Linked DNA regions of Homo sapiens: region 1 is linked to region 2. A link means that fine-mapping ties the variant in region 2 to the plasma level of a protein whose gene starts in the linked region. Region 2 holds a variant in brackets. A gene starts in the other region. All regions are shown on their forward strands. Region 1 holds the start of CHL1 (cell adhesion molecule L1 like). Region 2 overlaps ST3GAL4 (ST3 beta-galactoside alpha-2,3-sialyltransferase 4).

The links. PIP is the posterior inclusion probability: the model's chance that the variant is causal. Protein levels are from antibody-based Olink assays in UK Biobank. Linkage for the fine-mapping came from a reference panel and not from the study's own genotypes, which makes the PIPs less certain.
Region 1: it holds the start of CHL1, and the variant in region 2 is fine-mapped to the plasma level of the CHL1 protein (UK Biobank, PIP 0.96).

What each region holds. Positions count from the first base shown.
Region 1 is chr3:194,166-199,530 of GRCh38, forward strand. CHL1 (cell adhesion molecule L1 like) reads left to right here and starts at 2,598. Exons shown (of 28, transcript NM_006614.4): 1 at 2,598-2,898. CHL1-AS2 (CHL1 antisense RNA 2) reads right to left here and starts at 3,176. Exons shown (of 4, transcript NR_144487.1): 1 at 2,802-3,176; 2 at 2,291-2,343; 3 at 1,831-1,875; 4 at 1,593-1,749.
Region 2 is chr11:126,410,911-126,416,229 of GRCh38, forward strand. It overlaps ST3GAL4 (ST3 beta-galactoside alpha-2,3-sialyltransferase 4), which reads left to right. Exons shown (of 11, transcript NM_001254757.2): 10 at 2,595-2,738; 11 at 3,051-3,728. The coding sequence ends at 3,137. Among named protein-coding and RNA genes, the nearest start is that of ST3GAL4, 58 kb to the left of the region's middle. The variant C/T (reference allele first, on the strand shown) is at 2,980.

The DNA.
Region 1 (5,365 bases), not on the chromosome of region 2:
CCAAAAGGCAATACTACTTCAATGGCCCTAGCTCTGGGAATGATACCAAATGATGGTTCAGGAGGGAGGGAGGGAGGCAGTAAATCAGCAGGAAAAGCTGAAAAATGCCCCAGCTTTTAATAGCTTTTATCTTTTTCCAGATGACTGGCCTCTCTCTCACCTTCTGCTTCTATTCATGATAGGGCCCTTTTCTCCCCTATTTTTGTGGCTTGATATTAGTATTTTCATTCGAAACGGCCGTCCTCAATTATCAGAGAGAAAATTCACACCTTTCAAAGCTACGGCAATCACATTTCCATGTGACTCATAAGTATATCTTCTTTCTCTAGCACCTAGGTGCAACTGTGGGATGCCTGATAGATTAGGATTGTATGTTGAATGGGAAATGGGTCTGAACCAAGTGTCAGACAGTAGAATGGGAGCCAGGGGAGGGTTCCAAAGCAGCAGCAGAAGGTATCTCTAGCAAGCATCCGCTCTGGCTGGGGACTGTCTTCTGGTTCCAGCCTTACTGGAAGCTCAGGCTGTAGAGTTGTGAATTCCTGGGGCCAGGCAAGCCTAGATGTGTTGCCTGCTTTTGATAATGTATCAAAAATATGAACTCATCCTTGGAAGCGACAGCTATGAGGTGTTTCTTGGATGTAGAAATTTAGGTCATCTGTCTTCCTTTTGCATTGCCTTAAAAAGTACGATTTCCTTTCTTGGTTTATCATTTGCTGGCCTTCTTTCTTTCCATCCTTCCTCCCTTCCTTCCTTCCTTCCTCCCTTTTTTCCTTCCCTAGACTTTCCCTATCTCCCTCTTTTCTTTCGTAAAATTTGGTTGCCTGGGATAACGTGTATTGCATACAAGCTGACTTCCTTACTGTCCCTAGTAAGCTATGTGTGGCTATTATTTCTTCATTTATATGCAATGCCAGAAGCTTAGAAGAATGTTATCTCCCTTTCAGTTAAAAACTCATAGTTAAGAACTGGCCATCTTCTTGTTTTGGGTATTGTGGCTTGGTACTGTCTAATATATTTGGAGGGTATTTGATTTTTTAAAAAGCTACTGGCCATGCCTATTGAGTTTCCTACTGAGCCCAGCACCCAGACCAGTGATTGATTAAATAGTAGCTGCTCAATAAATATTTGTTTTGTAAATAATGATTCTATTGTCAAGAAACAAATCACCAAGAAAGAAGGAGCTATATATTTAAGAGTACTCTGTTCATCTGGCCAAAATGGAGTTCCGAGTCCCTTGCTCAGCTGATGTTTGTTCACCCAGAAGATGGTAAACTCCTGAGACCAACTTCGCTTTGTTGTTCTCTTGTGGTTCCTTGACCTTGGAAATGTTTTTCTACAGGCAGAGTATTTCCCCCTGTTGGAATTTTATTTAATATTCTATCTTTGTTTCTACTTTAGAAAACATGCCACGTGAATAATGATGCCTCAGGCAAAAGAAATCACTCCAGCAGTACAATTTAAACTTAGGACAAATCCTGCCCTCACTTGCATTCACAATTTGCCAAGGCAGTTGGTAAGAACTGTGCCCACACACAAATTGACAGAATCGAGGCCCCAAGGTTAGCGATGATTAAAATTTAAAAGTCCATTCATTCATTTTCAAAATATTTTATTCGATTGCTTCTGAGGCAGAATCATGAGTTGCCTTCGCTTTTGCTGCTCCCGGTGGTGGCATCCAACTCTGAGGATAGCTCATCCAACTCTGAGGGTAGCTCTGAGGGGAGCTAAATATCCTCATTGTTCAATGAGCTAGATGAAAACAAAACGAGGCTGTAAGGTCAATCTCACAGCCTTAGTGGAGTAAAAATTAGAAGTCAATAATTCTCTTACCAACAAAGAGGACTTGCATTCAACAGGATTTTCAAAAGTGGTATCCTGTAAAAATTTTGGAAAATACCACCATAATGGAAAAAAAATAAAGTGGCATATAAATCAAATGTAGTGCTAAAAATTATAATTTTTCCATATGAATTTTGGAATCCTAAAATATTTTTATGTGTTTGTGGATTCATAAGGCATCAGAACTGGCTTTTTGCACTGAATATGAGTACAGAAGGCTTTCCTCTCCAATAGTGAATTAATAAAGGATAAGTAGGAAAAACGTTACGAAACGATGTGGTAACATTATAGACTCTGTATTAGGGCAAAAATTGTGAGATAGTAGAAGATCTGTAAATTTAAGCATGCACAATTTGACAGCGGATGGTCGTAGCATATTTTGTAAATTCAATAGCAAGCCCCACCACGCCCTTAAATGAAGGAAAGCAAGAAGACAATTTTTAATACGTACATGGCACCACACCCCTCTAAGACGCAGCAATGGGAGAAAAGCAGATTGGCGACCTGTGTGTGCAACATGAACCGAGTGAAACCATCGGGGAGGGGGTGGGGGGCGTTTCTTTTAAATGTCGCTTTTGCAGATAAACGAGCAGGGATCCTACCTCTTTTGACCGGAGATGTTGAAAAGCACGACCAAAGTTTTTGGCTTGGTCTCTTGCTTTCCACAACGAGATAAAGTCTGAAGCCTGTAACTCTCCCTGTCCCGCGGGAGCGTGCAAAGGGAGGGAAGATAAGCGGCGTGGGTGAGGGGTGGCGGCGCAGAACCCAGGAAGGGAGCAGAGGCGAGAGCCAGCCTCCGGCAGGAGGGCGTAGACCCCGGTGCCAGCCAGAACGGCTCCAGCCTTCCCGCGGCCAGAGAGCCAGCGGCGGGAGGGGACGGGCGGGACCTCCGCGGACAGCCCCGGGTGCGGACCAGCGGGCAGCGGCCGGCGAGACCCTCCCTGGATCCGCCCAGAGCTTACCGGACCCTGCGCGCCCCCGTCCCGGCTCCCGGCCGGCTCGGGGGAGAAGGCGCCCGAGGGGAGGCGCCGGACAGATCGCGTTTCGGAGGCGGCGCAGGTGTGTCAGGGGTGGGGGTCCGCTGGCATCTCTCGTGCCGGCGCTGGGGGGGTCTCCCGTGGAGGAAGGGCTGAAGGTGCTCCGGGAGGGGTCCACTCGTTATGGAAAGGAAGCGGGGCGCGGTCAGGGTCCCTCGTCCGCAGTGGGGGTGGTCCGGGCCCCTCAGCCTGCACCCGGGAGGAGACGCCCCCTTTTCACGCCCCGCCCCCGGTGGCCGAGGCCGGATTCGGACAGCTCGGGGTCAGTCGACGGAGCACACCGGGCGCCCGAATCCGCCGGGTCCCACTCACGCCCGCCGGCCGCCGGTAGGTTGGCCCTCCCGCTTCCAGCCTCCGCCACCCCATCCCTCGCTGCTCTCTGAGGAGGATTCCAGACCCCCCCGTAGATCTCCGCCCTCTCTCGGGTGGGGCTCCGAGGTCTAGCTGGTCTGGGGGTCAGTCCCGGCCTCTGTCTCCCACCGCGCCCCTCGCTCCCCTGGACACCGCCTGGTGTGTGGGGCTCAGACCCCCCCAGTCCACTGCCCCTGTGTGGCTCCTCCTCTCAGGAGAGGATTCTAGATCCCAGCCCGGGGGGGGTTCCGAAAATGCCGCCAGCCTGGAGCGGGGAATCCATGGACCGTGGGGTTGTGGGGTTGGGGAGCACGAAAACCCAGAGAGGGGCTAGAGCTCCACCTCCCCAGACCGCCGAGGGGCGAGAGGGCGCGCCGGGGGCCGTGGTTGCCATGGCTCCTGGTAGCGGAGCCCGGGGGGCTGGAGATGCCGGTCGCGGATGGTCCCTTCTTCCTCTTTGTGCCTCTCTCTTTCTCTCGCTTTTTTTTTTTTTTTGGAGTGTGAGTGTGCGTGGGGAGGCAGCACGGAGAAAGTGATTAATTTGGGGAGCAGGGATTGGAGCCGGGAGGCTGGGGAAAGCCAGCCCCTCCGTTCCCACTCTCCGGGCTCGCTGCGAGCCACAGTGTCTCAGCCAGGGGCAGGGCCGGGGAACTCCTGCGAAAAACCACGGGCCGGAGGAGCAGCAGCCGCGCGGGCCCAGGTACCCCCGCCCCAGACGGCCAGCAGGGTGGAGCGCAGGGTGGGCGTTTGGGCTGCTGGGCGGGAAGGCGGGCGGGGAAGGGGTGGGAGGCCGGCGGCGGAGGGCAGGTGTGCGTCGGCAGGGCTGGGTGGCCCGGCAGAGAGGGCGCCCCAGGTTCAGCCCCTCCTCGAAGGGCGCCGGCGTCCAGTCCCGCTCGTGGGAGCCGCGGAGCAGCCCCAGGGCCGGCGAGCGGCTGCCCTGCCAGGCGCGTGCGCGAGGGCGCGCTCCCGCGGGAACGCGCCGTGCGCGGGGAGATTTGCGCGTGCGCGTGGCGATGGTAACTGGTGGGCCCCCCGGGCTCGCTCTAGGCGGAGGCTCCCGGGACGCCCACGTGGCTTCGAATTCCAGCTCCACCATCACTGTGATGCGTCACTCTGGACTAGGCATTTAACTACGTGCCTCAGTTTCCCTTTCTCAATAATACGGAGATTATCGATACCCTCTATACTGGGTTGTTGCAAGACTGGAATGAGATGATACAAGTAATTTAACACCATAGATTTTTAAATTTAACACCATATGCATATTTGATGCATAATAAGCACTCAAAAGTTATTGTCGTTGATGCCATTACTGTTAGTTAATCCTCAGTTTAATTACATATGGTGCATTTTCATTTCTCTGCATTTTCATTGAAGTAAAAATTCTGCGTTTTCTAATTTTGGAGAATAATCTTAATTAAAATATGAATATTTGTACTGCACAGTCCAACTCCTACGAAGCTCTGCCTTGCAGCAGATTGGAAGAGAGAAACTGATCAACTGCCGATGAAGTTGGCTTTTCAGTATATTGATGGAGAGAGAAGCTTAGGAAGCTCTTTGGGGAAACTTTTGGTGACAAGAAAATAAAAAGTTTATCCCAGAGTTTTTCTTTTGTAAATCTTTGTGTTTTCTCTTTCACCTGCAGATGTTGCAGTTGGGTTTGTCTTAATTTCAGTCTCTTTGTGAGGGACCACCATTTGGCTTTCATAATTTAACGTGGTTACAGAGCCTATGTATACCCTGGCTTTCCATTTTATGGCCTTAAGTGCTGCAGTGGATTTACCTTTAGTAATGGCAGAACGTAGTGTATAATCATTCCTTGCAAGCTCCTGAATATTGTGAGCAAATCAATGGAGACAAATAGTTATTACTGGATGGGTGTGAGTACTGGCTATGGCAACTCATTAAAATCTCTTTCAGGGTATGTTTGTACCCACTTCACTGCAGCACAAGACTATGATGATGAATATATGTTTCCCAGATTGTTATCTGTTGCATGTAGACTTACGGATCCTTTTCTTCAAAGAAACGGCTATAGATATTTATTGATTCCTCATGGTTATATAGGTCCTCCAACCTATCTGCTGATAAGTACACTGTACACTTCGTGGGCCTAGCTGTAGGTCTAAGAGGAGTTG
Region 2 (5,319 bases):
TGGAAGGATCAGGCAGAGAGCTGGGGAAAGGCATTCCATTTGGCCAGAGCAGGCGGCTCCTCCAGCACTGAACTGTTTCCAGTACAAGTGGCGTTGAAGGGCAACAAGGAGTTTCATGCCATTCATAGGATTACAGATGGAGAGGAGGCTGGAGAGGGAGATGAGAGAGGGCGAGGACCTGAACCCAGCTCCTGGCAGTGGGAAGGGAAAAGGAGGAGATGGACTCAACATTGTGTTGGTTGTTTTTTTTTTTGAGATGGAGTCTTGCTCTGTCACCCAGGCTGGAGTGCAGTGGGGTGATCTTGGCTCACTGCAACCTCTGCCTCCCAGGTTCAAGTGATTCTCCTGCCTCAGCCTCCCAAGTAGCTGGGATTACAGGCATGTACCACCACACCTGGCTAATTTTTGTATTTTTACGAAAATACAAAACACAGGAGTGCTGGTCTCGAACTCCTGACCTTAGGTGATCTACCCGCCTCGGCCTCCCAAAGTGCTGGGATTACAGGTGTGAGCCACTGCGCCTGGCCTGTATTAGCTTTCTGTTGCTCCCTAACTAATACCACAAGTTTAGCCGGCTAAAACAATACCCATGTACTGGCTCATGGTCCTGTAGATCAGAACAGCAGGGTGTGGCTGGTTCTCTGTTTAGGGTGTCACAAGGCTGGACTCGGTGTGTCAACCAGACAGTTCTCATCTGGAAGCTTGGGGGAAAATTTTGCTTCCAGGCTCATTCTTGTGGTTGAAATAATTCGGTTCCTGCGATTGTAGAACTGAGGTCCCCATTTCCTTGCTGGCTGTCAGCTGGAGGCTGGGGGCCACGCTCAGCTCTTGGAGGTGGCCCACATTTCTTGACCGTACAGCCTCCATCTTCAAGCCAGCGACGGCACAATAGATCCTTTCTGTGCTTCAAATCTCTGACCTCCGTTTCTGATCTTGACACCCGGATTTAAAGGTTCAGGTAATTAGGTCAAGCTCAGCAGGACAGCCTCTCCTTTTGTGTTCAACTGTGCCATATAAAGTAACGTCACGTAATCGCATCATATTCACGGGCTCCCCACACGCGCAAGGGAGGAGATTACATGAGGGTTAGCGTCACTGGGGTTCTCTTACGATTCTGCCTTATATATTTTACAGGTGGAATTGAGAGATTTCTGACCAATTCTGGGTTTCTAGCTTGGACAGCCGGTAGGGGGCGGGGGGTGGTAACATATTTAACTAATAGAGAGAGAGTGCAAGGAAGAGGAGGAATTTGGTGAGTGTAAGGAGACTGTGTCCAGGCAGAGCTGGCTAGAAGGCCATGGAAGTGTGGCTCAGCCCAGCTGGATGAGATAACACACTGGTGGTGAAAGCAACAAGGGTGGAAAAGAAGGTCCAGCCAGGGAGTGGAAGATGAGAAGACAGGAGAGCTCAGAGAGGGAGAAAGCTGGCATGTCGACAGGCCTGATGAGGTCCAGGAAAGGCTCCCAAATGGGTATGGGCAGCTGAAATTGTGTGCAAAGCAGGTTGCTGAAGCGGAGGAAGGCGGGGCTGGAGAAGTGAGAATATCAGGCTGCCCGTCACTGTGGATGAATTAGGCATGAGCAACTGAGGTTCTCAGAGCAGCCAGTAAGGTGAATGGGAAAGGTACTGCTGTCCTGCTTTAAAGGAGAGGGCAGCCACCATGGCTCACGCCTGTAATCCCAGCGCTTTGGGAGGCAGAGGTGGGTGGATCGCTTGAGCCCAGGAGTTCGAGATCAGCCTGGGCAACGTGGTGAAACCCCATCTCTTTAAAAAAATAGAGCGCCACCCCCATAAAGGGTCGCACAGTTAGTGCATGTCAGAGCACCCAGGTCTTCTGAATGAGGTCAGGTTCTCCAAGGAGGAGGGCAGAACACTTCCTTTCCTTTGAATGAGTTGCTTAACGCTTTTGTAAGCCTTGGTTTTCTCATCTGTAAAATGGGGCTGATGATAATAGCTACCTCCAAGTGTTTTTGTGAGACTAGATGAGATAATGTTTTATAGTAGGTAGGTAAAATACTAAACATAGTGTCTGGCACATAGTGTTTAAAAAGTAACTGATATGATGATGGCTGTCATTCTGATTGTTAGTCTTATCTCTACAGGCCCCAGGCCTCCCCCAGATGTGTGGAGCTGTACCATCCAGAATGGTAGCCGCTAGGCACATGTGGCTATTTACTTATTTATATTTGTTTATTTTTAGAGATGGGGGGGTCTCACTATGTTGCCCAGGCTGGAGTGCAGCAGCTCTTCACAGGTGCATTCTTAGCGCACGACAGCCCAGGAGTCCTGGGCTCAAGCAGTCCTCTGACCTCGGCCTCCTGAGTTGCTGGAACTATGGGCATATGCACTACTGCACCCAGCACATGTGGCGATTTAAATTTACAATTTAATTAATTAAAATTTAATAAAATAAATTCAGTTCCTCAGCTGCACTGGCCCCATTTGCGTGCTCGTTAGCTCGTGGCTTGTCTTGTTGGACAGCGCAGATGGAGAACGTTTCCGTGACTGCAGGAAGTTCCACTGCAGAGCGCTGGCAGAGATGATGGTGGGAGGAGCAGGGCTCCCACTAACACCCTCCTGCCCCTGTTCCTCAGAAGCCCACCACGGGCCTGTTGGCCATCACGCTGGCCCTCCACCTCTGTGACTTGGTGCACATTGCCGGCTTTGGCTACCCAGACGCCTACAACAAGAAGCAGACCATTCACTACTATGAGCAGATCACGCTCAAGTCCATGGCGGTAAGTGCCTGGCTTGTGAGCATGGTGGGCCAGGGCGTGGACGGGCAGACAGTCAGAGGGGCACTGGGTGAGTGGGAGCAGTGCTGAGACCCAGAGGTGGCTCCCGCAGTCAGAACTGGAACCGAGGCACCTGGACTCCCTGGCCAGCATCCTCCATGTTCAGCCACATGGGCTTTGTCTTCCTTCCAAGAGCCAGCCTGGGGAAGGGAGCTCCCAAGAAGTGTGGGGCCATTGGGAGGGG[C/T]AGGGAGACTTTCCTGGGGACAGAGAGGTCCCTGGGAGTCCCTCAGTTTATTTCCTTGGCTGTCTCCACAGGGGTCAGGCCATAATGTCTCCCAAGAGGCCCTGGCCATTAAGCGGATGCTGGAGATGGGAGCTATCAAGAACCTCACGTCCTTCTGACCTGGGCAAGAGCTGTAGCCTGTCGGTTGCCTACTCTGCTGTCTGGGTGACCCCCATGCGTGGCTGTGGGGGTGGCTGGTGCCAGTATGACCCACTTGGACTCACCCCCTCTTGGGGAGGGAGTTCTGGGCCTGGCCAGGTCTGAGATGAGGCCATGCCCCTGGCTGCTCTTATGGAGCCGAGATCCAGTCAGGGTGGGGGCGCTGGAGCCGTGGGAGCCCGGCCAGGGCAGGGGGCTCGTTGCTGTGGCACCCCCTCTCTGCCAGCACCAAGAGATTATTTAATGGGCTATTTAATTAAGGGGTAGGAAGGTGCTGTGGGCTGGTCCCACACATCCAGGAAAGAGGCCAGTAGAGAATTCTGCCCACTTTTTATAAAAACTTACAGCGATGGCCCCACCAAGGCCTAGACACGGCACTGGCCTCCCAGGAGGGCAGGGGCATTGGGAATGGGTGGGTGCCCTCCAGAGAGGGGCTGCTACCTCCCAGCAGGCATGGGAAGAGCACTGGTGTGGGGGTTCCACCGAGAAGGGGACCTCATCTAGAAAAGAGGTTACAAACCTACCATTAAACTATTTTTCCTAAAACGGAAGCAGTTGTGATGTCCTGTGTCCTTTCAGGTGGGGGAAGGCATGGGACAGGGTGTGGCAGTGGGCAGGCTTGTTAGACCAGAGCAGGGCATGGTCACTCAGGAAATAATGACTTATTGAGTCCAGTGTTGGGTGCCCGGTCATGCATTATCACCCTGGCATAGCAGGAGAGTGAGTGGTGCTCACAGCACCCGTCTGCAGGCACCCAGCCTGGCACCCGGCACCCTGGGTTACTGCCCAGAGGAGGGAGGGGCTGGAGGATGCCAGACGAGAGTGCCAGAGTCCTCTCCCACCTTCCTTCCTCTCTTCCCCACCATTCTTCAGTTACCCAAATCTCATGCTTGGGAGGTATGTGTTTTAAGGACAGGGGTGGGGTCAGACAAAGAAAGCCAAGTTTCCCTTCTCAGATTAAGTGGGAACCAGAAAATGGAGTTTATGGAAGGTCTTGCCAGCGGCCCAGGCTGCCAGGATGGGATGGGCAGGCCTGGAGGGCAGTGTGGAAGGGATTTGGCAAGGCCTAACAGCCAGTTGCTGGGCCAGGGGATGAAACGGCTTCTTTCCTAGGTCTTTAGCATCCTAACAATCCTGCCGTTTGCCTGTCTCTCCCGCCTTCGTTCTCCATCTTCCCAGATCCTGCTTAGCTGCCAACTGGGCTTCCTGCCACCCCACAGCTGTTCCTTTACATCTGGAGCCAGGAGGGAGAGTTGGAACTCCCCACTTGGGGAATGGAACTGGCAGCTGTATTCCTGGCTTTCTCGGAAAGAGTTGCGGCCTTGAGGTTTTGAGACAAGCCAGGCTGGGACAGGACAGATAAAGAGGGGCAGCAGTTTGGGAGGAACAGAGGAAGATGACATGGTTCTCCACAGAGCGTTGGAATGGCCTTGTGGACACCCACTTCATCCCCCAGAATGGCCCCAAGGACCCTCCCAGGGAACAGAAGGGCTGCTCTCTCAGCAGCCTGGCTGCTTTGCCAGGGGAGAGGGGGGTTCTGAGAGCGAGTAGAGCCCCAGCATCTGCAGCCCCAAGCCCACTCCCCTCCACACGGGCAAACTTTGTCTTGAAGGCTGTGTCCTGGGGAGCGAGCTTGCAGACAGCAGGGGTTGTGAGCGTGTGGGGATCTCAACTCTGCTCACCCCGATGCGTCCCCAGCTGCCGCTCATGTGGAGATGCAAGGGAGTGTCCGTTTTCCCATCCGGGGCCATTGAGAATGGCTGTCTGCATACATGATCCAGCTGGCCTGGACTGAGGCCACTGCCTGTTACTGAACGTGCCTAAACTCAAGCTAGAATCCGGCACACAGGGGTGGGTCAGACCCGTCTAAACTCCACACACGCACACATGTAGATATGGGAGCATTTTACATTCTTGGTGGGTTGTTTGTGATTCTGTGTGCGGACAGTCCTTCCTGCTCACATACTGAGAAGACTGTGAATGCGGGGTGTGTGTATACCCAAATAGACCATTGTTTGCTTGGGGGGGTGGGGATAGCTTTCTCCAGGGTGCCCAACATCCTACGCAGATTGAGGCAATACTGGCCAAGGGTCGGAGCTGAGAATGGGGCTTTGATGTGGGGCTGTTGGATGGGGTTCTTTG